Homo sapiens: one gene and its partners. The protein of the gene in region 1 interacts with the protein of each later gene in a pairwise test. Each region holds a gene or a part of one and is shown on either strand. Other genes may lie near its edges.

What was found.
Region 2: the proteins of KRT75 (region 1) and LCA5L interact in binary tests that used the Homo sapiens proteins (3 or more experiments, as listed by UniProt).
Region 3: the proteins of KRT75 (region 1) and LMO2 interact in binary tests that used the Homo sapiens proteins (3 or more experiments, as listed by UniProt).
Region 4: the proteins of KRT75 (region 1) and SUFU interact in binary tests that used the Homo sapiens proteins (3 or more experiments, as listed by UniProt).

Annotation. Positions count from the first base shown.
Region 1 is NC_000012.12:52,424,357-52,431,382, reverse strand, and holds part of KRT75 (keratin, type II cytoskeletal 75), read left to right. Parts: intron 1-677; coding exon 678-842; intron 843-2,639; coding exon 2,640-2,765; intron 2,766-2,906; coding exon 2,907-3,127; intron 3,128-4,531; coding exon 4,532-4,566; intron 4,567-6,627; coding exon 6,628-6,866; 3' UTR 6,867-7,026.
Region 2 is NC_000021.9:39,421,764-39,428,789, forward strand, and holds part of LCA5L (lebercilin-like protein), read right to left. Parts: intron 6,766-7,026; exon of another isoform or gene 6,741-6,765; 5' UTR 6,731-6,740; coding exon 6,409-6,730; intron 6,143-6,408; coding exon of another isoform or gene 5,996-6,142; intron 4,272-5,995; exon of another isoform or gene 3,997-4,271; intron 1,728-3,996; coding exon 1,213-1,727; coding exon of another isoform or gene 1,183-1,212; exon of another isoform or gene 1-1,182.
Region 3 is NC_000011.10:33,868,061-33,875,086, forward strand, and holds part of LMO2 (rhombotin-2), read right to left. Parts: intron 1,928-7,026; 5' UTR 1,657-1,927; coding exon 1,650-1,656; exon of another isoform or gene 1,527-1,649; coding exon 1,286-1,526; intron 1-1,285. UniProt on the Homo sapiens protein: Acts with TAL1/SCL to regulate red blood cell development. Also acts with LDB1 to maintain erythroid precursors in an immature state.
Region 4 is NC_000010.11:102,625,949-102,632,974, forward strand, and holds part of SUFU (suppressor of fused homolog), read left to right. Parts: intron 1-1,226; coding exon 1,227-1,295; intron 1,296-4,117; coding exon 4,118-4,207; 3' UTR 4,208-7,026. UniProt on the Homo sapiens protein: Negative regulator in the hedgehog/smoothened signaling pathway. Down-regulates GLI1-mediated transactivation of target genes. Down-regulates GLI2-mediated transactivation of target genes. Part of a corepressor complex that acts on DNA-bound GLI1.

The DNA of each region.
Region 1 (7,026 bases):
GAGCCTTGTCATACTAAACTACCCCAGCTCTGATGCTTCTCCCCCGAACTCCCTTATCCCATGGCAGGACAACATCTAACAAGGAGAGAGTACTGATTCCCAAATTCTAGGACACTGGGTAATTTCCCAAGGAATCAACACATACCTGCTCCCTTCCCCTTCCCTGAAAAGTATTAAAAAAAAAAAAAGGCAAGCTGTCCCTCAGCTCATTGGTCAGGGGGCTTCCTACCCTTTGAAGATGCCTCATTCTGGGCGCTACCCCTCCAAAGGCAGAGACCTGGGTCTGTGGAAAGGGAGAGAGAGGTAGAAAGTGATGGAGTCACACTGTGCAGGGGGAAGCAGTGTCCCAGATGTCCCCAATGCTCTTAAAGAAGCCGTTTATGTTGGCATACTGAACAGACACGTGTCACATTCAAATCTATGTAATTCCAATTCAGAGGATGCTTACCCACCCTCATGCCTGGGGAAAGCACACAGATGGGAGCCTTGAGAAGTAAGGCTGGGAAAGATTTTCACCACACTGATCTTTTGGGATGAATGGGAATACCTAGGGAATAGCTGGGAGAATCTGCCAGGAATACCAAGGAAAGGATTCCTGACCTAGATGGGTAGTTAACCACGAAGATTTAAGATTCTTCATCTTATGCCTTGGTGATGCTGAGTTTACTGCCCTGCAGGAGCTGTCCCAGTTGCAGACCCAGGTCGGTGACACATCCGTGGTGCTGTCCATGGACAACAACCGCAACCTGGACCTGGATAGTATCATCGCCGAGGTCAAAGCACAATACGAGGACATTGCCAACCGCAGCCGGGCCGAGGCTGAGTCCTGGTACCAGACCAAGGTGAGCATGGACACCTCCATGAGAGGTTCCAGGGTTAGTGTTCTCTGAGGCTCCACATTATCACTTAACTCAGCCTCAGGAAACGTGTGAGCACATTCGTTTATTTCAACTTAGCAGGCATGTCTTTGATGCTATGACAACTTAGCTTGAAATGCATGTGGAAACCGAACCAGACACACTAATACATGGTCAGCCCAATGCTGGGAGCTCAGGACATCCACTGGCCCCACATTCCTCAAGATCTGGGTGGGAGCAGGGTGAGACACCAGGACAACCGAGACACAGTCATGAAGCAGTTTCTAAAAGGCTTATTTATTCTCTATATATTTTCTGAGCTCCTGCTGTATGCCAATCAGGGTTACAGGGTTGCAAATAAATAAACTGCAAACAGAGAACCCAAGCTCTGGGAGGCCATGAAGTGAATGGACAATCATGGAAGGGAAAAGATAGCATGAATAAAAAGCTTCCAGGAAGACATGGGGGCTTTGTACAGTTGGGAAGCCATGAGGGACAAAAGATTGCTGAGGAGTGGGGAGAGGTTTAAGGCTGAACAAGGAGCTGGCAGGCAAGAACAAGCAAGGGAGTTTATGTCAGGAAGAGGAAGGCTGGGATAAACACAAACAGCTACTGCCCAGAGCTCAGACAGCCGCAAAGAAGTTTGGCTTTGCGGGGTACAATTGACCCATGATACCAGCTCCCTGTCAAATCCAGACCCCTCTTGGGGCAGCTTCTCACCTACGAGCAGGTTCCAACTCTTTCCCTGCTCCATACGTTGCCTCATCCCTTCTGGTCAGGAGTGTGGTGGAAAGGAAGGTGGGTAGCAGGGACCAGGGTTCCACAGGGCAGAGGCAGCGCCTTGACGGTGAAAGGAAACATGATGCACTTAACCCCAAGGTGAAGTGGTTGAAATCGATAGCAAACGATTCCTCATGTTGTTGGGTTGTTGCTCCATTTAATCATGTATACCTAGAAGCGGGAACCTGAGCTATTCAGCACTTTCAAGAACCCCACAGATCTTGACTCTGGCAGGGGATCTCCTTTTGTCAGGGAAAGGTGTAGGTTTCACTTCAGTCTGCTGGAGGAGACAGGGTGTAATTATTGCTCTTAAATTCACATGTCCTGGATATGCACCATTAGATTGAGAACTACCTGAGATTGGGAATACTTTTACAAAGTCTTCAAAATTGTGCCTTCCACAGCCTCTGCACCATCCCACACCATTCCCCCATATCTCCTCCCTGTTTCCCCAGCACTGGTGTTTGGAGGGCTACCAAAATTCATGGGCACAGTTGGTCTGGATGCACGCTCTGTGACCAGGAACTACCCAGGGACCTTGATCAAATCACCGTCTCACTCCTAGAACTCACCATGTTCCTTCCCTGACCCAGAGTCTTCATGCAGGCTGTTTCCTTTGTCTGGAATGTTCTCCCCCACAACTGGTCACTTAGGTCCCTCCTTCTCATCCTTCAGACCACAGTTCAAGCATCTCCATCTCTGGAGAGACTTCTCTGACCACCACTTCCCACTTCCAAATCTAGGTCAGATTCCTTCATTACACTCTCCCAGGACCCTGTTCATTTCCTAAGGGCACTTATCTTAGTGTGGAACTATACATTTGATAATATGCTAATTCAGTTAATGTCTATGTCCCCCAATAAACTGTAAGCTTCAGGGGGAATGAGTGAATGACCAGGAATGAATGAGCCTGCTTGTGGCACCCAGGGTGGGTCTGTGTGCACAGCGAGTGCCTGGGCCAGGCATTTGACTCAGTGACTGGGTTTGCTCTGGTTCTCTCAGTACGAGGAGCTGCAGGTCACCGCAGGCAGACATGGGGATGACCTTCGAAACACCAAACAAGAGATCTCTGAAATGAACCGCATGATCCAGAGGCTGAGAGCTGAGATTGACAGCGTCAAGAAGCAGGTAAAGATTTGGCAGGGCCAAGAGCTCCTCAAATGCTCATTTCTTCTGGGCCTTTCTGCCATCTTTAAGAACTCCTCCCCAAGAAGCACCACACCTCCATGGGCTGTCAGCAGGACTCATGGCTTCCTCCTGTCCTTACAGTGTTCCAGCTTGCAAACGGCCATTGCTGATGCAGAGCAGCGGGGAGAACTGGCTCTCAAGGATGCACGGGCCAAGCTGGTGGACCTTGAGGAGGCCCTGCAGAAGGCCAAGCAGGACATGGCTCGGCTCCTGCGTGAGTACCAGGAGCTGATGAACATCAAGCTGGCCCTGGACGTGGAGATCGCCACCTACCGCAAGCTGCTGGAAGGCGAGGAGTGCAGGTGAGGCAGATGCACCAACTTCATCCTCAAAGCAAGTTGAGCTCACCTCAGCTTCCTGGGCATTCCTAGGGGCTCGGGCTGTTGCAGCCCCTTCTTCTCCTGGAAGAAAATGCAGTTCAGAATTGGGCTATGGCAAAAAAATAATTTTAATTTCCTTCCAGGCTAGTAAATCATTTGAGGTGCAACTACAGTTAGCATCCCCATAGAAACCTAAAACCTGATCAGGTCTAAGTAACTGAATTCTACCAAAGGAGACATTTGGTTACATGGCAGCTCTCGAAATGTGGTCTAAAAGGCCATGGGCTGAGAACAAACAGTCCTAGGATTTGGGCTTACAGATCTAACACTAAGTAGCTACATAACCTTGGGAAAGTCAGTCTCCCTTCTCTGGCCCTCAATTTCTTCAATGATAAAATGAAAAGGTCAGATTACATGATCCGCAAAGCTTCATGGGAGCTTTGTGCTCTGCCAGTTAGGAGCTGTGTAGCCAAGAGCAGATACTTAACCTCTCCACCTCTCAGTGTTCTCATCCAATAAAATGTGAATAACAATAGTTCTAAACTCTCACATTATTAAAAGGGTTAAAATAAGGGAATACACACAAAGCTCTTAGAACAATGCATGGTACACAGCGTGTTCGATAAATGTTAGCTATCATTCAGTTTCATGGCCAAAGACATAGGCTTTGGTGTCAGATGAATCTGTCTTCAAGTCCAGCTTTGCGACTATGGGCAAGTTAGTTAACTTGTCTGAGCTTCCATTTCTCCCTCTATAAAAGTGAGCAAATAATACCTACCTCATGGGGTTGTTGAGAGAACTAAGTGGTGTGATATAAGTAACAGGTAATCAACAGCTGTTACCTCTTGTTAAGTTTCTCAGTATGTGTTTATGAATGAATGCCAGTTCTGTCCTGAAGATGCTAAAGCAAAGTTACTTGGTTGCTAAGATAATAATAAACTGATATTACTATTGTTATTTTTATGACTCAGACGCCTCTCCACACCTATATACAATAAGCTCAGCCCTGGCTCAGTGCATGACAATGGTCCCTTGTTGAGAGACAAATCTTATTATAGGACAGGCCCTTCTTTCCAGTTGATGCCAGTATATGATTACTTTTAATTTCCTTAAGGCATCTAACTAGTTTAAACCAAAAATTGTATTTCTGAGATTATAGATTTTGCTCCTGTGAACCTCAAACTCCACCTTATTTTATTCATTAGATTATTAATATTATCTTTAATACTACTAGTTCTCAAATAATTTCAACCTGCATTACTTCTGCAATAAAAATAATAAAGTATGTTTAAATGCTTTGTCAACAATTACAAAAGTGTCATTGCAAAGGCCCTTAAGCTGCTGGCCACATTGGTAACCTTCCTTCTCCCTGCTCTTCCCAATCAGGTTGAGTGGAGAGGGAGTTTCTCCAGTTAACATTTGTGAGTATGACATACTTCTTGGGCCATTTGGAGTGTGTGTGGTAGAGGGGATGGGGATGTGGTGGGCTTGCCAGAGGGTGAAGATATGACGGGTTAGACGGGATCTCACAGACAGCGTTCATTTGGAGAAGGTTTGAGGTTTTGGGTCCCTTAAAAAGCAAGCCATATTAGGAGTCTTTAATGTCACAGTTCTTTCCTCTTTGAGAGTGAGGGTGTCACAGAAGGGGTGATGAGAGGTTTGATGTCATTGTTCTGAGTGGGTTTAAAAGATCCTGGCCACATCTCCTACCTCCCAGAATTCCCTGCCTTTTTGTTGGGGCTGCAAGCCTAGCACAGAGGTGAGCACTTGATGTAGACGGGATTTATGAAAATTCCTGGTCTGGCTTGGACCTTTGAAGGGAGCCTTCATGCTGTGGACAAGAGCATTGCCAACTAGGCAGCTTCTCTCCTAAACAGTTTGAGAAGAAGCTCCACTGCTTGGCTCAACTCTGCCGAGTATAACTGCAGAAGGATGCCAAGGGTTTTCAAGGCAGTAAGGGCAGCATAAAATATGGCAGTTGGCTACAGTAGCTCTAAAACAGGAGAGGTATTAACAAGCTGGCATGGCCCTGTGCTGGTGAGAGAAGAAGTGGTCATTCGCAGAGCTCAGTGCTGGCATCACAAGGGCAACAGAAATGACTCTTACAACTCACCCTCTACAAGTGAGTTTGAGTTTGGTTTTCTTGATGGGCATTCATAAGGGCAATTCATTATATTAGCCAATGATTCTAGAAGGCAGAGCCCTCTGAACCACCCAGGTGTCCTTCCTCCCTGATGTCTTTGTCTAGTGGTGCCAGAGACCCTCAAAGCTAATTTTGGGGACAGGCCTTCAAGCATAACCTTGAAGCTCCTTTTCTCTTGAAAACACCTAATTGTCTGTATTAGTTTTCCAGGGCTGTTGCAAAAAGTACCACCAGTCAGGTGGTTTAAAGCAACAGAAATGTCTTGTCTCACAGTTCCGGAGGCTGAAATTAAGGGTTAGCAGGGCCCTGGTCCCTCTGAAACTTGGAGCCTGGACCAGCCTCCTGCTCTGTATATCATGCAGGGTGGCACTATCCCCTCTCCAAACCAGATAGTGTTCTGGAACACGGAGGCAGCATGGGCAGCCCAGCCCCCCTCCAGCCTCCTCCTAGCTCTGGCGGTGGCCATCCATCCTCGGTGTTCCTTGGCTTGTGGCTGCATCCCTCCACTCTCTGTTTCTGTGATTGTATGACCGTGTCCCTGTGTGTCTGTGGCTTCAGATGAATGTCTTCCTTCTTTCTGTATGGACACCAGTCATGTTAGATCAGGGCCCACCCTACAGACTTTATCTTAACTTGGTTATACCTGCAACGATCCCATTTCCAAATAAGGTTGCATTCACGGATACTGGTGTTAACACTTCACCATAGGTTTTTGAAGGACACAATTCATCCTATAACGGAGTCTATTTTTTTAAAATTTGATTTTCCTTCGGCAGGACCCAAAGTAGGGTGCTAGAATGTGTAAGGGGATGAGTTATAAATTAGGAGAAGAATAGGTTGGGAGGAGAACGGGGGCAGAGTTCACTGGCCAACAGGTTAATCTGTCACTTGATCCATCAAGAATATTCCAGCCTCCACCCTGGGATTCTGAGTGTGGGGCTGGGAGACGCTGAGGGAAGAGGAGTGTGCCCCTCCCCCCATAAGCATCCAGAAGGAAGAGAAACTCTGGAGTCAGGCTCAGACAGGGAGACAGACCCAGACGGCACAGCAGGAGGATCAAAGGGAAAGCAGGTGGACTGGAGCTGCTTCCAGGAGGAGAGGGCTCCAGTAGGTTCTGGAAGGGGAGGAGGAAGCCATTCCAGCCTAAGAGGCTGCCTGGAGCTGCAGCTCAGGAACACAGGCAGTGATCTCACTAAGCAGGGGACATTGGAAGGAGGCAAACTGCTGGCTGACGAGACCACCCCCTCCCCACCCAAGGACTCCAGGGCACAGGCCCTCACACTCCCAGCTGTCTTCTCGCTTGCACTTGATCTGACCACACCTCCTCTCTTCCCGGCAGCTGTGGTCACCTCTACTCTTTCCAGTGGCTATGGAAGCGGCAGCAGCATTGGAGGTGGAAACCTGGGCCTCGGTGGGGGCAGCGGCTACTCCTTCACCACCAGTGGTGGGCATAGCCTGGGTGCAGGCCTGGGAGGTTCTGGATTCAGTGCCACCAGCAACCGGGGCTTAGGGGGCAGTGGTTCTAGCGTCAAGTTTGTCTCCACCACATCCTCCAGCCAGAAGAGCTACACGCACTAAGAGAGCCCCATGGCTCCCTCTACCCTGCCTTGAGGCCTGTTTGCAGTCACACCTGGACACCAGGGTCCTCCTCCTTCCTCTCTCCTTGTAAGGTGCACCTGTGCTGCTGGGAGCCTGGAGTACTGGCTATACCCATTCCCAGGCCTAAGCCAGCCTCTCC
Region 2 (7,026 bases), on another chromosome or scaffold:
CCTAAAACATTAATGTTAAAGAAATAACATGTTTTGGTCCACAAAACAGTTTTCCTCCACTAAATGCCTACAACCAAACAGAAATTTCTCATACTTGGTAAGTGCTTTTTGTATCAAAGAAAATAGTTATGGAATTTGTTTTGGTTTTATGTATAGATATAAAAACATGAACAACTTAGATACATACATGAAAACAGATTTGCTTTTACATGACAGACATACGCTAAGATGAATACAATATTACCTAAAAGGCCCAATAATATCACTTTGGTATACAAGAGTGAAAATTGAGGTTGCTCATTATTTTCTGTAGATCACATATTAATTTCATGTGAAAAAAATTTATTGGAAAATAGGGAATTTTAACAACAGAAGAAATAACTGAGATTAAAACGTGGAGGAAACGAACCTGATATTTACTTACTTCAAGATCATAGAAAATACTCGTGTTTCAGCATCAAATATTACAGAATTAAATCCTAAATTAATTCCATTTATGTTTATGTCTATACAGACTCAAACTAGCTAATGTAAGATATGCAGGAGAATTCTTAATATGATATCAATGCCTTCTCCCAAGTCATCCCTTATAATGTAATCCCCAGGCTTTTGACAACCAAGTGCTGTTGAGGAAAATCAATCCAGTCATCTCTTTAATTATTTTAATTCCTTTTCCTTCCCTACTACCCAGGAACATTATCTGGGAAAAGCTGCTATTTTGAAAATAACTACAAATGTCTGTGTGGTAATTCCTGGCCAAAATGGTGAGGGAGAATACAAAGGCCCTGAACGGATGCACTGAGTAGGTTTTTAGGGAAGTAGCCTTTTAATCAACAGTTTAAGGTAGAGGGTTGACTTCAAAGAGAGGTTTCACGTAACACAATGCAATCTTTTCAGCACAGGGAAAAAGTCCCTTAGCACTGTAGCTGTGCTCTCTTAGAGAATGGTCATTTCCAGATAAACCAGTCCAGCCACAGAGTGAACTCTTGTGCACTGCAACAGATGAACATTTCTAGTTTGAGCTGCTTCTGTTTTTCCTTCAAACCACTCCCTTTCTGTGCCCTCTATTAGACAACATAATTATTTAGTGCAGCACGCCAAGTGAAGCAGTTAGTAATGCTTTGTTACAGAGGGGGCGCATCCATGATTAATTCACACCCTCTCTCTATTAACTTTGGAATCTTAAACTGTCTGGGCCCCTGAAATACAGACCTGTATTTTTTTGTCATTTGCGTCCATTTTTGTTGTGATAATAGATAATTTATGAGTGAGTTCTTCCCTTTCTGCAAGGTTTTTGTCTTCAGAAAGTTTCTGCAGTGCCTGCAAGATATCTTTAGTCTTCAGTAACTGGCTGTCAGTTTCTCTAAGTTTCCTAGATAGAGTTCTTTCCTTTTCCTGGGATTTCCTAAGTAGTTGCCTTAAATTTTTTACTTCATTCTGATGTTTAGCCATAATTTGAGGTAGATTATTTTGTGAATTCTCATATTTTCCTATAGCTTTCAAATGCCTAAGCTGAAGTTGTTTCAAAAATTGGTTTTCTGTAAGGATGGCTTCCAATTTATGATGCATATCAGCTAATTCATTTTTTAGTCCTTTAATTTTATGAAGCCTTGCTGAGAGTATTCGATGAGCCATAGCATCTCTTCTTTGGGCAATCATATGGATTTGAGAATTAAAGAGTGATGCATTCCAGGTGTGCTTTTTTTCAACTGATATTTCCTTCTGGCCTGTGTAAGCAGAAAATCCAGTTTATTACTAGTAAAATATACAGATATGCAAATATGCACATATGCATAATCTCTCTCCCATGCCCCCATGCACACACACCACACACATACACACAAGCGTAAGTGTAACTAGAAGGGGACAAAACTATCATTTAATGAATACCCATGCTTTAGGCTAGGTACTTTATATATAACTACCTCATTTAATACAATTCTTTAAGATCAGTTGTAATATATTTTATAGCTGGAGATTTTACATCATTTGTCCAAGATTACATAGCCACGAAGTGACACAGAATGGATTGAAAACCAGGTCTTCTTTGACTCTAAAATCTGTACTTAGATTTCTATTATAACAGCTAGACTAAAAGCTGTGATAATAGGCCAGGTGCAGTGGCTCATGTCTGTAATCTCTACACTTTGGGAGGCTGCAGTGGGAGGACTGCTTGAGGACAAGAGTTTGAGACCAGCCTGATCAACAGAGTTAAGATCCCATCTCTAAAAAACAATTTTTTTAAATGTTTATTTTTATTTTTTTTTGAGATGGAGTCTCCCTCCATTGCCCAGGCTGGAGTGTAGTGGTGCAACCTTGGCTCACTGCAACCTCTGCATCCCGGGTTCAAGCGATTCTCCTGCCTCAGCCTCCCGAGTAGCTGGGATTACACGTGTCTGCCACTATGCCCTGCTAATTTTTGTATTTTTAGTAGAGACGGAGTTTCACCATGTTGGCCAGGCTGGTCTCAAACTCCTGACCCTCAAGTGATCCACCCTCCTTGGCCTCCCAAAGTGCTGGGATTACAGGTGGGAGCCATTGTGCCCGGCCTCTACAAAATTTTGAAAAGTAGCCTAACATGGTGGCACATGCCTATAGTCCTAGCTCCTCAGGAAGCCTTGGCGGGAGGATCCCTTGAGCCCAGGAGTTTGAGGCTGCAGTGAGCTATGATTGCACCACTGCATTCCAGCCTGGGTGACAAAGTGAGACCCTGTCTCAAAAACAAACAAACCAACCCCATGACAATAGCTGAAATTTACTAAGTGCTTATCATATGTCAGGCATTAAACTAAATGCTTTCTGTAGATTATCTGATGTAATCCTTTCAACAATATGTTATGGGTAATTAGAGTATAACATGAGAATCCAATGTAAAGAACTTATATATTCAAAATGACCCTCAAAAGGTCATCAAATTGCATAAGAGTCTATCTGTTTATACAGATACCGATTTTCCATCTCTCAATAAATCCAACACAGTTAATTTTTCCTGTTACTTTGGCTGGGCACCAAATGAAGTAATTGGCATGTGTCCAGGGGTCTATCTTAAACAAAAAGTCTCTAAAAATTATCAGTTAGCACCAAACTTACCTAATTGAATTTGAGTATGTTAAATACATTTGTAAATCACTGTACTATTATCCCATTTTAAAGATAAACACATGGAAGCTTGGGGATGTCCCTTGTCAATGAGCACACAGCTAGGAAGTGGTGAGACAGAGCCCATTGTCTATGTGCCTATGCTAGTGCCCCACAGGTGTGTGCATTTGTAGGATATAGAGGTATATGTATGTGTGCACCTGTGTATGTAAATGTATATGTGGTGTGCAAGTGTATGTATTCATATATCTAGATTCGGAGAAGGAGAAATTGAAACTGGATTCTAAACTCTAAAAATGTCTGATCCTCATTCTGGAGAGGGAAGGACACTTAGTGGCCAGTGTCACCCAAGTCCTAACCTTAAACTACTGGTCCAAGTGTGGACACATCTGAGATGTGGCTTAATATGTCTGCTCCAGGTGGTGGGAAAGGCAATTCTACCTGTGATAGAAACAATGAACCAAGAGAGCCAAAGCATGCTTTCTGGGGATAAAACATTTGAATCATAACTATGAAAGAACTCATAGATTATACAACACAGTATAACATCAATAACTGGTGGCCTGTCTTTGCAATTATACCTTCAAGTGTATTTATTTTCCCATGGTTTAGTAGGGGCTATGGCTGAATATTAAGTATTTTAGAATAGGCTTCTGAGCACAGTAAGTGGAAAGCAGAGCAGGCCAGCCTCTAGGACATCTACTAGAAGGCCTGCGAAGAGGTGTCTGTGGTTTTGTTGAGGCCGTACACTTTAATACTCTGGGCACTGGCTAGGGAAGCTCTAGACCCAGGCCGTATGGATCAGGCTGGTTTAAAACAGGGGTGGGCGAGGACTGACATGTTCTACACTATGGCCAGCATGACTGAACCTGACCCCCAACTTGTAATGTCTTCCAGCTCTTAGGTGCTCTGACCCTGGAGGAGAGGGATTTCACTGAGATGAGAAGGATGCGTGATGGGATCCATGGGCACTGGAGGCTTATATTTCCCTCTCATGCCATGCTCAAGTGATGGGAGGGCAGAGGCATGAGAGGGTGCTAAGGGACTAAACGCCATGGCCACAGGAGCTCTGGCCAAGGCCCCAGGAGTCAAGAAGTGCACAGAGGGCATGGATGCGTTGGAAAGGGGAGGTGCTGGCCTTTTAAAGATCATATGGCTTGGACAAGGAACATGTAAGTGGTAAAAATGAAGGGCAGAGGCTTCTCCCCCAGTATTCTTCTTTGTGTGAGGCCCTTTCCATGTCCCTGCCCCCTCATATTCCCTTATTCCCCAAACGTGTCTGAGATTGACTTTCCTGTCTACCCTAGTGAGTGGGTGGGGAGGACAAGCCAGGTTTGTTGGCTTCAGAAAGGTAAGTACACCACTTGCATTTGAGGGGTATGTAACAAATTCATACTGTATCCATCACGCATACTTGATGGAGGAATATATACTCCAAGAGTAATCAGCTTTAAAAAGCTAAATTATAAGGTACTTAGAATTCGAAATGCAATTTCTCTCTTGTAGAAAGTTTTATAAATGCCAACTGCCCTCTTGCATGATCCCACAAAAGCTTACCATCAATATAAAATGTAGTATATAGATTCAAGATCTCTTATTGTAAACCCTTGGAACCAGACTGTTTCAGAATTTGGGGGTGGGTTTTAAAGGTGAGTGCATATATGGTATTTTCCACAGTTCTCTCATTGGGGTCTGGAACAACACCCTTTAATGAAACTATATTTTTGCAGTGAAATTATAATCACTATTCACACTAAGTGAAATAACTAAAGATCTGCTTCATATTAGTTCAAATAAGGTTTTTGTTGCCAAATCAACTTTGATGCCAAGGATATGAAAGATGTTGGGTTTTTGGAGATTTGTAAATTTCAAATGTGGATAAGGAATTGTGTGTTTGTAGGATCTAACCATGATGTTCATTTTTGATGGAGTCCAGGCATGAGAGAAGTACTGGACTTTTCATTTCCTGCCCTGGGCCTTGCCAGTGGAGGTAGGACCCCCAGCTCTCTAGAAAAGTAACATTTAACCTTTTGAGACTCTGATGAAAGGTACAGGGCCGTCTAGAAAAGTTTACAAACACACATAGACACAAAAAAATGCATAGAATTTCATGGGGTTCACAGACATGTGTCTTAGATAAAGAATCCCTGTGCTATAGCAGGGGAACTGAAGATTCTGGGTGTTCCAGAAGTGGCACAGAGGGTCCTGGACACAGCTGGTAACAGCAGACTGGGGATGCAAGATGCAAGGTGGACATGGCGGTGGCAGATGCACTCCCCAAACAGCAGGCCCTTTATTGTCCTCCTGTTGACTGAAGTGCTCTGATGGTCAACATGGACAAGAGCCCCAGCTGTTTCTATATAAGGAATACTTATGAGCTCAAGATTGCCTCAAATGGGAGGAAGGAATTACAGTCTGGGCAGGGAAGGAGGAAGAAAGGAGATCAAAGATAACACAAGCTAATTCCAATTTGGACAGCTGGGAGTTGATAGAGCTGGTACTTTAAAAATCTACAAAGAGCCGGGCGCGGTGGCTCACGCCTGTAATCCCAGCACTTTGGGAGGCCGAGGCAGGCGGATCACGAGGTCAGGAGATCGAGACCATCCTGGCTAACACGGTGAAACCCTGTCTCTACTAAAAATACAAAAAATTAGCCGGGCGTGGTGGTGGGTGCCTGTAGTCCCAGCTACTCAGGAGGCTGAGGCAGGAGAATGGCGTGAACCCGGGAGGCAGAGCTTGCAGTGAGCCGAGATGGCGCCACTGCACTCCAGCCTGGGTAACCAGAGCAAGACTCTGTCTCAAAAAAAAAAAAAAAAAATCTACAAAGAAATGACATTATTAACAGCCTTTTGAACCATCTCTGTTTCAAAAGATGGTGTTTGCCAATATGTCTCACCAGACTTGGAGACCATCCTCTTGGGGTGCTGAGATAGGTATTTACATTTCACTGGCAATTCAAACACTGATTCTTCAGCTGAGATGAAAGGCAAGAAGCCAGTGAAATCCAAATATTGTGGTACTCTGTAACAAGGCCACCTGTTAACTAAAAACAGAACTAACCTCACTAGTAGGCTCCAGTAGGGTAAGCCATGCAGGGGGCTAGGCTTTACATGTGAAGCCTTTCTGTTATTTTATAATTACTCTTAATTTCTCTATTTCCTAATTTATTCTATAAAAGTTCACCTATAATACACATTTACAATATGGGAAAACAATAAAACTGAGTATGAACCACTTCAAACACTAGTGCAGTAAAATAACATCATTATGACAGAAATTTGGTCTTGCTTGGGAAATTTTACTCCTTACCTTTAGATTGGGAGATTTTAGAAACATTATACTTTTTCTTCTCCTTTTCTTTTACCACAGGCTGCTTTAAATAATTTCTATTAATAGCCTTTTCTGAACAATCACAGAGAAAGTCTTCTGAATAATCATACTGAGAACTTAAACTTCCACAGGAGCACTGAGATCTGCTATAATCAACACTCTTATTGGAAGCATTACTGTTCCGTGAAAAATCGCCTGTGCCTGGGCTTCTCTTGCATGCTGCAGACCTCCTATTGTTTTCTAATGCCACGCCGAAGAAATGCTCATCTATATTTGTTTTTGTTAGATCAGCCAAAGACATAGCAAACAACCTAATAAAAGAAAAGTAAAACCTAATAAAAGTATTTTTGAATTTATTGACATTAAAATGAACCTATGCTTTATTTTATATATATATATATATATATTTTTTTTTTTTTTTTTTTTTTTTTTTTTTTAAAGACAGGGTGTCACTCTGTTGCCTAGGTTGGAGTGCAGTGGTGTGGCCATGGCTTTCTGCAGCCTTGACCTCCTGGGCTCAAGCGATCCTCTCAGCTCAGCCTCTGGAGTAGCTGGGACTACGAGTGTGTGCCGTCACACCTGGCTAACTTATTATTT
Region 3 (7,026 bases), on another chromosome or scaffold:
GGGGTTTTTGTTATAACAAACCTAGCTCATTACAGAACTGGTGTCTTAACCTTCAAGACTGAATAGTGATGTTTATATTCTCATTGGATGGTGGTACTTCCTGTGTTTTATGAGAATATGTTGAGCTTTTATGCTGGTAACTGAGGGTAAAACCCAGGTAAATAAACACCATAGAAAGCCGAAATTGAAGGGTGTATGTGTGTGTGTGCGGTATTTCAAGCAGGAAAGCACAATTCTTTTAAAGCAGGAAAAGAAAAAACAAAACAAATGTCTCTTAAAAGCACAAATGGACAAGTCATTAACCAGCTCCTTTGGTCTTGTGTAACAAATCCCTTCAAAGGATTAGAGGGGGACTTCAAAGGAATAAAAATTCTCAAAACCAGACAGCTAATGACTCTTAAAAGGGCATTTGCGTTGACAGGAAAATGATATCTTAAACACCCCTTACTCCCCATGTTAACGCTGAAGAATGGGTGAGGGATAGAAAAACATTCCAAACCAGTACGCGGCTCAGAAAACAGATGCGGCCAATGCTCATTAGAGCTCTGGTTCCCTGACCCCAAACCCTTTTAAGACTCTGCTAAAAACTACGAGACTCTACTCCCCAGAATAATTCACCTATACACAAAATGGTGCATTAACTTTCGAGGTTCACATGTCCCCATCGGTGGACCCCGAGGAGGGGTACACCTACTCAGATTTACTCCGGATTTCGCTGCTCTAGAAATCCCTGGAGGCCCAGAGCCAGCTCCGAGGTGGACGGTCGGACCCCTCACCCGCCCGTTATCCGCAAGGCTGGCAGCGGCTCCACCTGCGGACCGGGAAGGCGGCCGTTGGGGACCCCGGAGGCCGCCACTTGGAATGTTCCCCTTTCCAAGACCAAATGGACAAAGAGAAAGGACCGAGAAGGAGAGGGAAGAAGGGAGCAGAGTCAAGCCCAGAACGCTCTCCGGACTGCACCTGCGCGCCTCCAGGCTCTCCTCGTGCCTGCTCCCGTGCAAACTTTCTGGCCCGTGGTGGCTTTGGGGAGCGTCCCAGTAGCCTGGAGTGGCCCGCAGAGGCGCCGGGCCGACCCCTGTCCCTGCCGCCCGCCGCCCAGTCCCTCTCCCAGAGCCCCCGGAATCACCCGGGAGGAAGGAGGAGCCCAGCGCTCGGCACAGGGGGCCAAGGGCACGCCGCGAGCGCGCACCTGGAGCCCCCTCGCGGGCCGCCCGGGTCCCCCCGACGCTCCGGGACGCGAGGCCGTGGACACCGGGGGTGGCAGGGGCAGGGGGGCCGCACTTACTCTGAAGGGTCCAGGCTCTTCCTTTCGATGGCCGAGGACATTGGGGAGGGAGGCGGGGTGCCGGGCGGCGGGGGCGCTCCCTTTGTGGCGCGGGGCTGGCCGGCTGCCGGGGCTCGGACCCCCTCGGGTGCTCGGGCGCCGCCGCCGCCGCCGCCGTCGCCGCCGCTCCTGCGCCTCCGCTTGCTCCGGCGCTCCGCCGGCGAGCTCGCCCCTCCGCGCTCAAGGACAGTCACCGCGCTCCCTTCAAACGCCAAAGAGAGAGAGCGAATCACCGGGCTGCGGGCGCGCCGCGGCCGAGGCGGGGGCCGGGGCGCGCAGCCTGGCTCCAGGCGGCTGCAGCTGCTGCTGCTGCTCAGGACTTAACCTTCCATCCCGGTCCCGCCGCCGCCACCGCCCGGTCCCTCTCGCGCGCTGTCGCCGGCTCCGCGCCGCCCGCGGGGATGGTGTGCGCCCGCCCGGCCGCCCGGAGCCCCTCGCACCTTCGGCCCGGGTCGCGGCGCGCTGCTCGCCGCCGAGGGCAGAGAGGGGGCGGCGGCCTAGGGGCGGGGAGGGGACCGTGCGTCTCTCTCCGGGCTTCCTCCTCTCTCGGGAAGGTCTATTTTCGCTCAGCTTCCCTCTGTCTCTGGTTTCATTTCCTTTTTCCTGATCACGATTCAAATACAATAGAAGGAAATCACATTTAAAGAGACAGCTGCCCGGTCCCCCCACCTCCCCTTTTTTCTTCCTTTTTTTTTTTTTTTTTTTAAACGGGGCTCCTGGGGATTAGCAATACAAACAGCAGCATCAGGACTGACTTGGCTTCTTAAAGGGGCCAGTGTCGGGGACGGGGAGAGCCGCTCAGCGAACACCTCTCCTTGGAAAGGAGGCTGGGCAACCACTAAATCATTCTTCAGGGCTTCCCCTCTTCCGCCTTTCCCTTTTGGTTTAACTAAGGCAGAAAGTAACCCACGAACAGCTCGAGCAAGCAAGAAAAGACAAGAATGTGAAATAAGCACCTACAGAAATGCAAGTGTTCCCAGTGGATTTTCCGCCCGTCCCAGGTTCGAGGTCCCAGGTCCACGGACGCCGTGCACTGGGATGCCCCGGACAGCGCGGCTCTGCGGGCTGCGGGCTACGGGCTGCGGGCCCCAGGCTGCGGGCTCCGGGCTGCGGGCTCCGGGCTGCGGCCGCGCTCTGCAGAGGCGATGGTGGTGCGCCAGCCGGGACTGCACGGGCTGGGGACGCCTAGAGCAGAGCCAGGGCAGCTAATCCCAGAGGGAGGGTGGCTGGGAGGGACCACGCGGGGCCGGGGCTCCTCTCAGTCGGCTGGTGGCGGAATCCCCTCCCTCTGCACCTTTCAGAAAGCGGACTCCTGCGGTTAAACTGCCCCCCATGTAAAGTGCCAGTAGTATCCCGACCAGAGAAAGTGCTTTTTCAATGGTCAAGAACAGGATCAGAGAGATTATTTTGCCCTGGGTCAGGCACAGAGAAAGAAGGCGGACTTGATTTGGGGGTTCAGGCTTCCCCCTCTCAGCCTCCTTCTAGAAAGAGGCAGGAACGCAGAGGGGAAGCGGGGGAGGCTAGTAGTTTGCCCTTCCGTGGAGAAAAACTTAGGCTCTCCTGGGCCTCAGAGTTCCTTGAAAATATCTGCGTTCAGAAGCTGAAAGGCCTATTTGTGCGTGATGCCAGTCATTAAGGCTTGTAAAGAGGGAACGTACTTTCAGGATCCATGGTTTTATATGATCAGTCTGGATCATAGGCATACATTTCTGTTCCCATTTTAAGGATAACCAGAGTTTACTACTGCCTGCATGCTCTTGTCATTTTCTGGTCCCTGTGTCCCAAGGCTTGGGTCCCTAATGGGTATAATCAAAAGCTGTGTGTGTGTGTGTGTGTGTGTGTGTGTGTGTGTGTGTGTCCCAAAGGAAGCCTTAAGAGCAAATTTTTGTCCTAGTGGAGACTTCAGTATACAAAAAGACTTTTTCGGCTGTGCTCGGTGGCTCATGCTTGTGATCCCAGCACTTTGGGAGACCCAGGCTAGCCTGAGCAACACAGTGAGACCCCGTTTCTACAAAAAATAAAAAATAAAAATAATTAGCTGGGCGTGGTGGTGCTTGCCTGAAATCCTAGCTACTCGGGAGGCGGAGGTGGGAGGATTGCTTGAGCCCAGGAGGTTGAGGCTGCAGTGAGCCATGATCGCACCATTGCCCCCCAGTCTGGGGAACAGAGTGAGACCCTGTCTCAAAAAAAAAAAAAAAAAAAAAAGTTGGGTTTTTTTTTTTCCGATAGACCCTTGTTTTTAATTTAAAAAAGAAAATACTTAGAATTTAGGCAAGCCTAAACTATGTGATAAATATGTAACCTACCACACTACTTTCATTTCTAACAGAAATGAAAATAAATATATAGGTTGTGATGAACAGTTTACCTACTTATAACCAGTCAATGTGGTGGTTAAACGCTGGAATTTTGGAACCCAACTGCCTGGGTTTGATTTAGACTCTTACTTATCAGTTAGCATGTCCTAGGAAAATTATTTAATCTGAGGAGGCAGTATGCGGTAGTAGCTCTGGAGTCAGACTACCTGGATTCTAACCCATCCTTGACCAGCTGTGTCAACCTGGGCTCACAGCAGGAATTTAAACTCCCAGTATCCTGGCCGGGCTCGGTGGCCCACACCTGTAATCCCAGCACTTTGAGAGGCCGAGGCGATCCCAGCACTTTGAGAGGCCGAGGCGGGTGGATCACTTGAGGTCAGGAGTTCATGACCAGCCTGCCCAACATGGTGAAACCCCATCTCTACTAAAAATACAAAAATTAGCCAGGTGTGGTGGCACATGCCTGTAACCCCAGCTACTCGGGAGGCTGAGGCAGGAGAATCACTTGAACCCAGGAGGCAGAGGTTGCAGTGAGCAGAGATCGCGCCATTGCACTCCAGCCTGGGTGACAGAGTGAGACTCCGTCTCAAAATAAATAAACAAACAAACAAATAAACTCCCAGTATCCTCATCTGTAAAATGGAGACGACAGAACCTATTGCCTAAGTTATTGTGGGGATTATATGAGTTAGTGCACAAAAGGGTGGCACATAGATTTGTAATGGCATGGGGGTAATAACAGATATGAAGTTGCTTGCATGAAAAGCAACTGGTATATAGTAAGCACTCATAAATGGCAGCTGCTATGTTATAGTAAAGGGCATCATTAAGATAATTTTAAAAGAGCTTGAAATTAAATTTAAAGGTGAAATGGGGGTTTAAAATAAGAATTGCCCACCCAAATTTGGAAACTATTTCCTGTTTTTTAAAAGCAGGAAACAGGATTCCTTCACCTCACCCCCTTCTTCTCCTAAATAAAACATGTAAGTGTTTTCCATTTTAACGTTCATTATCGTGGTGACTAAATGACCTGTTTGCATCTGCTTGGGTGTTATTTGTTTGTTTGTTTGTTTTTTGAGATGGAGTCTCGCTCTGATACCCAGGCTGGAGTGCAATGGTGCGATCTCAGCTCACTGCAACCTCTGCCTCCTGGGTTCAAGCGATTTTCCCTGCCTCAGCCTCCCGAGTAGCTGGGATTACAGGCGCTCGCCACCACGCCTAGCTAATTTTTTGTATTTTTAGTAGAGACGGGGTTTCACCATGTTGGCCAGGCTGGTCTGAAACTCCTGACCTCAGGCGGTCCATCTGCCTCAGCCTCCCACAGTGCTGGGATTGCAGGCATGAGCCACCGCGCCTGGCCACATCTGCTTGTTTTTATTTAATCTGATAAATTATTACTTTCCTTGTCACAGTTTTGCATGGGGCTCAAGTCAGTTTTTAAATTAAATATATCCTTGGGTTCCAAGAGGTAACCTCAGAACAGCCAAATTCAGGGCATAACGTTTCTTTTTAATAATATGCTTCTACTTTGACCTGAGTGTGTAAAGAAAAAGAGATTACTGCATATGACTTTGGGTCAGTTTCTTATCTTTCACAACTCTTTGGGGAGAACTTCCTTAGAGAAGGTGAATATTTGAAATGGTATCTTAAGATTTCAATTTCACACACAGTGGTTGTAAGAAATAACTGCCTACCGGTGGGATTTCATTCCTATTCAACGGGCAATTAAATTGCTCAAATTTAAGTTTAACATTTAGAATCAAGTCTCAAAATGTGTTTTTATTATGAATAATTTTAAAGCAATCATGACCTTATTGTATCCTCCCTTAACAACTAGTACATGCCTTATGCAGAAGAGAGACTCAGGAACTATGAGGTGATTGGGACATGTAAAACGGTTCTTTTAAAAGTTGAGAAAATCTCTATTTGATCCCTGCCAGTGGGACTGAAATTTCATTCCTTTTCCCTTTCCCCCAATTCCTTGCAAATCTTAAATATCCTAAAATCTAGAAAATGTTCAAGTTTTCCTTCCTGAATAAGAATGCTAGAAGAAGAATGAATCAATCTACACGATGGCTCTGACCCCAGATGGATCATTTTTTTCCCCTGTGGGCATTTTCTATCCTTTTTGCTTATTACATTTACAATTGTTTTCTAAGGGAACAGCAGTTTCAAGTGACTAAGGTTACATTCCTTTGCTAAAATGGACTTCTGATAGAAATGAAAATGCAAATATAATTGAGAAGATCCCAACATTATGATAATTTACCTCTCTTTTTTTTTCAACCATTAGAAGCCAAGTTGCAACATATGCTTTGTCACTTGTGACATTCATATACAAAAATATGACATTTTGTTTCTAAATGTGGCATTCAGGAACAAAAATAAAGACCTGTCTTAATAGGGTTTCGGCTCCCATGGAGAATTTTTTTAAACTATTCGGTTGTCACAGGCATCCTGTGCTCAGACTCATTTCAGAACATTTCAGGGCCAGCTGACAGATAAGTTTTCACAGATGTAAGGCCTATTAGTAACCTTAGTGATAAACAGATTCGGTTTTCTATATAGTAAAGAGCCCAAAATACATCTTTTAAAAAATCCATTTCAACCGAGCCTTAGGATGAGCATAGAAGCTCAGCTGTTTGCTAGCTGCGTGATCTGGGGGAATTTACTTCACTTCTCTGAACCTCAGTTTCTGTACCTATCAAATGGAGGATGGAGGCAATCATAATGTCACCAGGGCCAGAACTAGGATGAGGCCACTGGGGTGCCTGCTTGCCTCACAGGAGTTTTGAGAGGAGTCAATAGGATATGTATAAAAATACTTTGCACAGTGATGCTGCACAGTAAATGGTCAGAAACGATAGCTGTTGGTATTACCCCATCTTTCAGAAGTAATCACCACTGTATCAGGAAGCAACAATCTCCCAGCCAATCAGGACATCCACCAAAGAGTGCTGAGACTGGGGTGCTGTAGAAAGAGCTGAAGTTCACCTAAGACCTCGGCAAGCCTCAGGCCAGAAATGCAGGGCTGTGCCCATTTCGGGGCCTGGGTAGGCTGCTGACAGCTTCTCTGCTTCTCTGCTACACTGCTACACTGACTGCTTCAGCCACATCCCTGATTTCATCTGATTTTCCCCTCCAACAACTTTCAAACCACCATTTATAATTTAAAAAAGAAGCCAAACAAAGCACTGAAGGAGCCGCCCCCAAATGTCACCATTCCTCAGTGAGTTCTTAGCAGTGTTAAGCTCATAGTGTGTCCTAGTGGAAGGGGCCTGAGAAGTGGGATTTTCTAGCTTGCTCCTTGGAGCAGTAGGAGTTTGAAAGCACCTCCCTAGTGGGTGTCACCCACCCCTGCTCCCACTGCAGCAGTTCTGCATT
Region 4 (7,026 bases), on another chromosome or scaffold:
TCAAGTTCTCAATTCTCCTCCTCACAGGGAGGGTTTCCCCTCAGAGGAGCCCCTCACCTGGATCTTCACCCCATTATCTTTCTTCCTTTGTGCCCTACCTGGGTGCTCAAGGTGTACGGGAGAAGACAGGTAGAGCTGTGGCCTGGGGGTACAGAAGGGTCTGCAGTGGAGGGAGGCTGGGAGGCCCTGGGGACAAGGACAGGGAGGGGGAGGGGTGAAGGAAGGGGTCACAGTTGGAAGAGGAAAGACACCCTCACCCAGGGCGTGGTGGGGTGCAGACCTGGGATCAGCTTGGCCTGGCTCTGCCTAGCAGCCTGACGAGAGGGGTGGGTGGGGAAGAATGGCCCAGCAGATTGAGGAAGGCCGGTTTTAGAGGGCCTGAGAGCCCTTGGACGTTGGTATTGGCTGTGAAAACTTCTTTAGCGGATGAAGTTGGTGTTTGTGCCAGCCAAATAGTGGGGCCAGACTCAGCATCAAAGCGAGAGGCAATGAGGTGTCAGACTAGAACAGCAACGTGGAATGCTGGGAGGTGACCTAGAGAAGAGGAACCTCAAAGAAGGCTGGAGGAACTCAGTGGCTGATCGAGCACAGCAGGTCAGGGGCTTGGGAGCTTCCAGCCTGGGAGGATGTGGCTACTGTGAATGGGAATGGAAGTTGGGAGTCCCTTTGTCATCTGTAAAATGAGACGTTGGTCCACAATCTCCAGATTCTCCAGCTCAGACATTCTTGGATGTACCTTCCAGGGCACTTCCAGATTCCAGATAGGGCTTGTATTCCAAATCCAAACAGTTTCCTTTTGTCCTTCTACGGTGAGGGGCAGAGGGGGACACTAGAGCCTGACTGGGCAGCAGCTTTAATTTAATTTTTTTTCCTTTTAATTTTTCTTTTCTGTTCCTTTTTCTTCCTGAGATTCCTTTTTACCGGCCCCACCAGTGTTCATCTCCCTTCTGGGAGCAGCATTCCCAGCTCTCCCAGTGTCCTCCCTCCCCTCCCCATTGTCCCCTGACCCCTTTCCTTCTATGCCTCAGTCTGATATTGCAGGGAGGTGAGGGTGTGGGGGGAATGACAGCTGGGGACAGGCCTCAAACACTTCCCTGTGTCCCTTGAACAGATCACAGTGAGCTCATCTCTCCTCCATGGTCAGAAGAGAGGTATAACGCTTGGTGGTTGGCAAAAAGATCATACATTTAAAAATAATAATAAAAGCCTGCCTTGTGCCTTCACAGATTCTGTTGACCGAAGAGTTTGTAGAGAAAATGTTGGAGGATTTAGAAGATTTGACTTCTCCAGAGGAAGTAAGCTTGTTTGACTTTTCCTGACAACAGGTCCCGTCTCTGGGACCATGTGTGTGCGTGCGTGTGCACGTCTGTGCATGCATGTGTGCGTGTGTACCTGTGGTGCGTGTGTGCTTGCATGTATCTGTGTGGCTGCATCTGTGGGCTCCTCCCCAAGGTGCAGGGATAGGCTGGAGAGGAGACTGTAGATTTCTCTTCTGTTTCTATGCACCCTCACCATCCCCTGCCCTACCCCCAGCCCTTGTAAGGACACCCAGCAAATCGTCTGAATTGCCAGCTCCTGAGAGCCTCATTGAAGAGGAAGCCAGGGCCTTCAGGCTAGTACGAGTTCTCCCCAGCCCCTGCTGTTCCCTGGCAGATTCTGAACAGAACGCCCATGTCTGTTGCCAGAGAACATTCCGCTGGGGAGTTCTGGTGGGCAGCAAGGGACTCCTGCTCTCGCCTCGGGCCACCCAGGAGCCACTCTCCCTTCTTCGTCCTCCAGCCATGAGCTGTGCCTCTTAGTCTCCCTCTTCCAGCCCTGGCTCAGAGCTGGAGGAGCTGGCAGGCCAGCTGTGGCTGTGCCTTCTTTAGCTGCTCCTCTGGGGTAGAGGAATGGAGTCCATAATCCCCTTTGTTTTTTCTCCCTTGTTCCCGGCATCCTTATTTGCGAGGGCTTACCTCATCCTGGAAAATCCCTTCCCCTCCCCCGCTCCTGCCCGCAGCACCCCAGTGGGATGGGAGCTTTCCTGGCCCCAGTGCCCCATGGGTTAGTGAACTCTAGCAGGCTGGCCGGGCCTCTGGAGAGCTCTCCTGGGCCCTGCCCTGCCTGTGGCAGAGGCAGACCCTTCCCTTGTCCTGTCTGCCAGGAAATGTGCTTGGGGGAGAACTCCTTCGCCTCCCAGGGGCCAGGCTTTCTACCAAGAGGGAGGCCAGGCGGGAGCTAGGTTCCAGCCAGGGCTGGAGCTTCCAGCTTCCAGGGCTCCCTGGGCTGCAACAGCCAGGACACAGGCCTCTGGTGTTTAGGAAGCTGAGGGGAGTGCACAGGGCGGGACCGTCCAGTCCAGGTCTCCAGTTGGACAGGAACTCCCCAGAGCCAGGGTCACCTCAATAGAGCAGGGTCTCCTCTGTCCTCTGGGATGCAGCTTGAGAAATTTGTTCATTTATATATTCCAAAGCCATCAAGCACCCAGTCCATGCCAGCCAATCAACCCCCACAAGTCACTGGTCCCTGAGTCCCAGCTCCCCATTCAGTCAGACCAGAGCCAGCTGCCCAGAAGCGCTTCCGGAGAGGCCTTGTCGCACTGGGATGGCGCTGTGCCAGGCTGCTGCTTTGAGCTTGGGGGTAGGAGGGGGACAGTCCAGGCAAGAGGGACAGAAGCCTGGGGGAGCAGAGGAAAGTAGGTCACTAAAAATGACTTTTTTCTTTTTTTCCTTTTCTGTCCAGAGGCTGTCCCTACACCCTGCCTCACTCGCCACTTTGGTCCTGGCAGAGACAGTCCCCCAGCAGAGGGAGCGAAGAGGGAGGCAGCCAGGAAGGGTCAGGCTCGTCTGCCTCCAGCCCCAGACCGAGGCAGGCTGAGAACACTGTTCTCTCCTTTCCACCCTGCCCTGACTTCCGGCCTAGCCAAATTAGAAAAGACAGACCCTGGGCCGGGCGCAGTGACTCATGTCTGTAATCCCAGCACTTTGGGAGGCCGAGGCAGGTGGATCACCTGAGGTCGGGAATTTGAGACCAGCCTGACCAACATGGAGAAAACCCATCTCTACTAATAATACAATAATTAGCCGGGCTTGGTGGTGCATGCCTGTAATCTCAGCTACTCGGGAGGCTGAGGCACGAGAATCGCTTGAACCCGGGAAGCAAAAGTTGCAGTGAGCCGAGATCGCGCCATTGCACTCCAGCCTGGGCAACAAGAGCGAAACTCCGTCTCAAAAGAAAAAGAAAAGACAGACCCTGTGTCTAAGTTCCGGTATCAGTCCCAGGCAGTGAGCATTTATTGAGCTCCATCTGTGTGCCAGACTGCATGCAAAGTTCTACAGTAAAGAGGGAATAAGAGGCATCAGCCTCTTCCCCTTCCCCTACCAGAAACTCCCAGGTGAATGGGAGAAACAGAACTGTAGGCAAATCAGTGTATCCTGGGATGGGGTGGGAGACATTTGGCTCTCCTTGGCCACCACTGGGACCACTCTGAGGCTGGTAACCCTGGGAAGTGGTGCGAATGAATACAGGGAGCAGGGTGGGGATTGGCCCCTCTCAGGCCCAAGGGATCACCTCAAACCACACTTGTCCCACTCTTCTGCTCCCACCAAGGCCGCAAGTGTGGTTCTGACTTTGGGGCCGAACTGGGGCCTCCTTCCCTTTGGAGCCTTTGGCCAAGTATACAGAGGACAGGTTCCAGGGTTCTTCCTGCACTAGCCTCTGAAAGAGAGGCCATGGCAGTGACAGAGCTCAGGCCACTTCCCCATAGCCTCCAGACCCTCCCCCAGCCCCCATCCTCCAGCCCCAGGGCCTCAGGGAGCAGATTCTTTACATGCCTGTGGCCAGAGGCAGAACCAAGGAAGTGAGCAAGAGGGAGGTCAGCTTAGTGGAGAAAGGAGGAGAAAACGCCCTCCTCCAACCTGCCTCATTATTGACAGGCCGTGGGGAAAGAAGGGGTCACCAACTCCAGCCGTTTGAGCCCAGCCTGCCACCTGGGTCTAGCATTTGAGAATGAAGCCACGCCTCCCGCGGCCTGTCCTATCCCTAGCTCCCCGGGGACAGGCCTGGGCAATCTCTGGAAAGACCACGGTGTATTCTGCTAACCACTCACACTCCTGGTCTGTGCTTGCTCCCTCCACAGTTCAAACTTCCCAAAGAGTACAGCTGGCCTGAAAAGAAGCTGAAGGTCTCCATCCTGCCTGACGTGGTGTTCGACAGTCCGCTACACTAGCCTGGGCTGGGCCCTGCAGTGGCCAGCAGGGAGCCCAGCTGCTCCCCAGTGACTTCCAGTGTAACAGTTGTGTCAACGAGATCTCCACAAATAAAAGGACAAGTGTGAGGAAGACTGCGCAGTGCCACCCCGCAGCCCAGTGGGGTGCCATGCACAGGCCACAGGCCCTCCACCTCACCTCCAGCTCAGGGGCCGCACCCCGCCGCTGGCTAAGCCTTGTGACCCATCAGGCCAGTGAGTGGGCAAATGCGGACCCTCCCTGCCTGCAGCCTGCACAGATTCTGGTTTGAGGTTTGACTCTGGACCCTGGCTGTGCCCCTAGGTGGAGACAGCCCTCTTTCTCACCTACCCCCTGCCGCACAGCCCAGCAGGAGGGAGGCGGACAGCCAGATGCAGAGCGAGTGGATGCACTTCCCAGCTCATCTCTGGAAGCCTTTGCTACTCAAGCTCCTCTGGCCGCGGAACAATTCCTCTGATCATGTTTGGTTTTCTTCTTCCTTATTTTATTTTGTAGAAACCGGGTGGTATTTTATTGCTCTGCAAAGATGTCCAGAAGCCATGTATATAATGTTTTTTAAACAGAACTTCATTCCCCGTTGAACTTTCGCATTCTCTGACAGAGGCCTAGGGCTGTATCTCTCCCTGGGCTGCCACCAGAGAAGGTGCTTGGTGTTCGCCTGCCAGCCCAGAGCCCTGGAGGAGCCGGCTGCACAGAGAGGCTTTTCTTCCCAGCTGGGCCTGGTGGAGCCCGGGGCAGGGGGAGAGTAGAGACACTCCCTTGTGCAGCTTTGAGCCTAGTTTAGCTGGGGCCAGGGAGGGGTGCTACTGTTTTCCAAGTGAATGGGTCTCAAAGACTTGGTGACCCCAGCCTCATCTTCTAGGCCTTTTCCACCCAACCAGGCCTACCTGGGAGAGGGTGAGGTTCAGCACATCACACACCATCCCCACTGTCATTCAGGGCCTGGGTCTCCAGCTCTGTAACCAGTCCTGTCCCATTTCCTCAGTCCCTGGGCCTCCCAGCCTTCAGGCTGTAGGGCTGCCTTACTAAAATTGAAAAATCCACCTCTTAACATCTCTTTCACTTTGGTTTTGCTAACACTGCTCTCTGCTGCCCTCCCATCCTCCCTGTATCCATTCATGCCCTATCTTTCATTCTCCACTCCTAATCCCTCTCCTTTCTGGCATCCTGGCCTCTCGTGGTCCTCAGCCCCTCACCCCCAGTACTGCAGATCTCACAGTTTGCCTTCCAGAAGCCAGCCTATCTCTAGCCCATGGTTTTGGAGTTCCTCTCGGGTTATCTCCCACGCCTGACCTGGAACCAGCAAGCCCCTTTCCTGCCTTCTTACCCCCAACTCTAGGGATGGGACTGTTACAATACTTCAAGATCACTCTTTACACCTCTTCAAAGCAAAGTCATGACAATGCAGGGCTCCTCATTGCTCCCATCTGCCTCTGCTGCACACACAGGCACCAGCAGGGATGCCACAGGAGTGCCCACAGGGTGCAGGACTCCACTGATGAGAGATCCAGCCAAAGAGCTGCCCCCAGGGGTATGAGGGCACCAGCTGGGTTCTCCAGGGAGCAGGAGTTGGACCTCCATGGAGCCACTAGGCCTGGCCTCCTCTACACATCCCCAGGGCTATCTGGTTAATTCCATCAAGCTCAGAGTTAAAAGGCATATCAGCCTGGAGTATTTGGGAGAGACTGGCTGCAGATCCCCGCCAGCCAAGATGCAAGCCACTCGGGACCTGATGTCGGCAGCTGTGCCTCTACTGCCCTGAGGACTTACCAGAGGGAGCCCTACTGGCCTTCCCCCACCACAGCAGCCCTGCCTGTGAAGCTCTTGTTTCTGACATTTCACAGGCAGAGAGGTGCCATCAGTTCGCCTCCATTCCTTGCCACCATGACCAGCCTCTCCCTGAACTCTCTCTTGCTCGGGACCTGCCTGAGGGCTCCCTGCTGCAGTTCGCCGTACTTCCATCTGCTGGGTGCCTCCATCGTTGGTTGGGTGGGGATGGGGCATTTTCTGAGCTAAGCTTTGTCATTAGTTTGTGAAGCACCTGGTCAGCAACCTGCCCCAGACCTGGAGGGTCTTTGTGGACTGAAGGTAGACACCAGCCAGCATGGTGGCCCTGTTCTGGGGGAGCAGGGTAAGGCAGGAGGAAGTGGGTGAGCTCCGAGATGATGAGCACATGAAGCCTGTGGCCCCTTCGTACCTGCAATATGTCAGGAGCCTCACGCTCACCCAAGATCCTGCAGGGGCCAGGCTCCATCTCACTGGCTCTGAGGGCAGGACAGGGTATCACACATTTCTCACCAGGCCTCCTTTCCTATGGGCATTGGTGCCTCCCAGAGGTTTCTTGGGCTGCTGGCTGGTGAGAGAGGACCCTTAAAGAAGATCAAGCCAAGCTGACCTTGGACCCTGTCCAGCACAGCTTCTGGCACAGGATGCTTGGTGAATGTACCCTTTCTTTCCCTCCCTGCAGCTCTGAGGGAGCCCCTGACCTTGTAGTGGGTGGAGGAGGTAAGGGGCCTCCCTCCCTAAATCTGCCTCTTCTGCAAGCTACTTGGAGACTTGCCTAGTTGTACCCACCCCTCCAGGTCCCTGGTGCTAGAGCTTCTGAGAAGGGCCTTTCCCTTTCCTCTTTGCCTGCTATATAAGGCAGGCTCCTGTGGCTCTGCTGGCTCAGTGTGGGCTGCAGGAGGACTGCAGACTCAGCTGCAATTCTGAGGGGGGTTTGGGAGGCTTGTGCGAGGTCTCAGGCCTGTGTGGGGAGCTGGTGCCTCTTCCTGCCCGTATCTTTCTCTTCCAAGGGCAG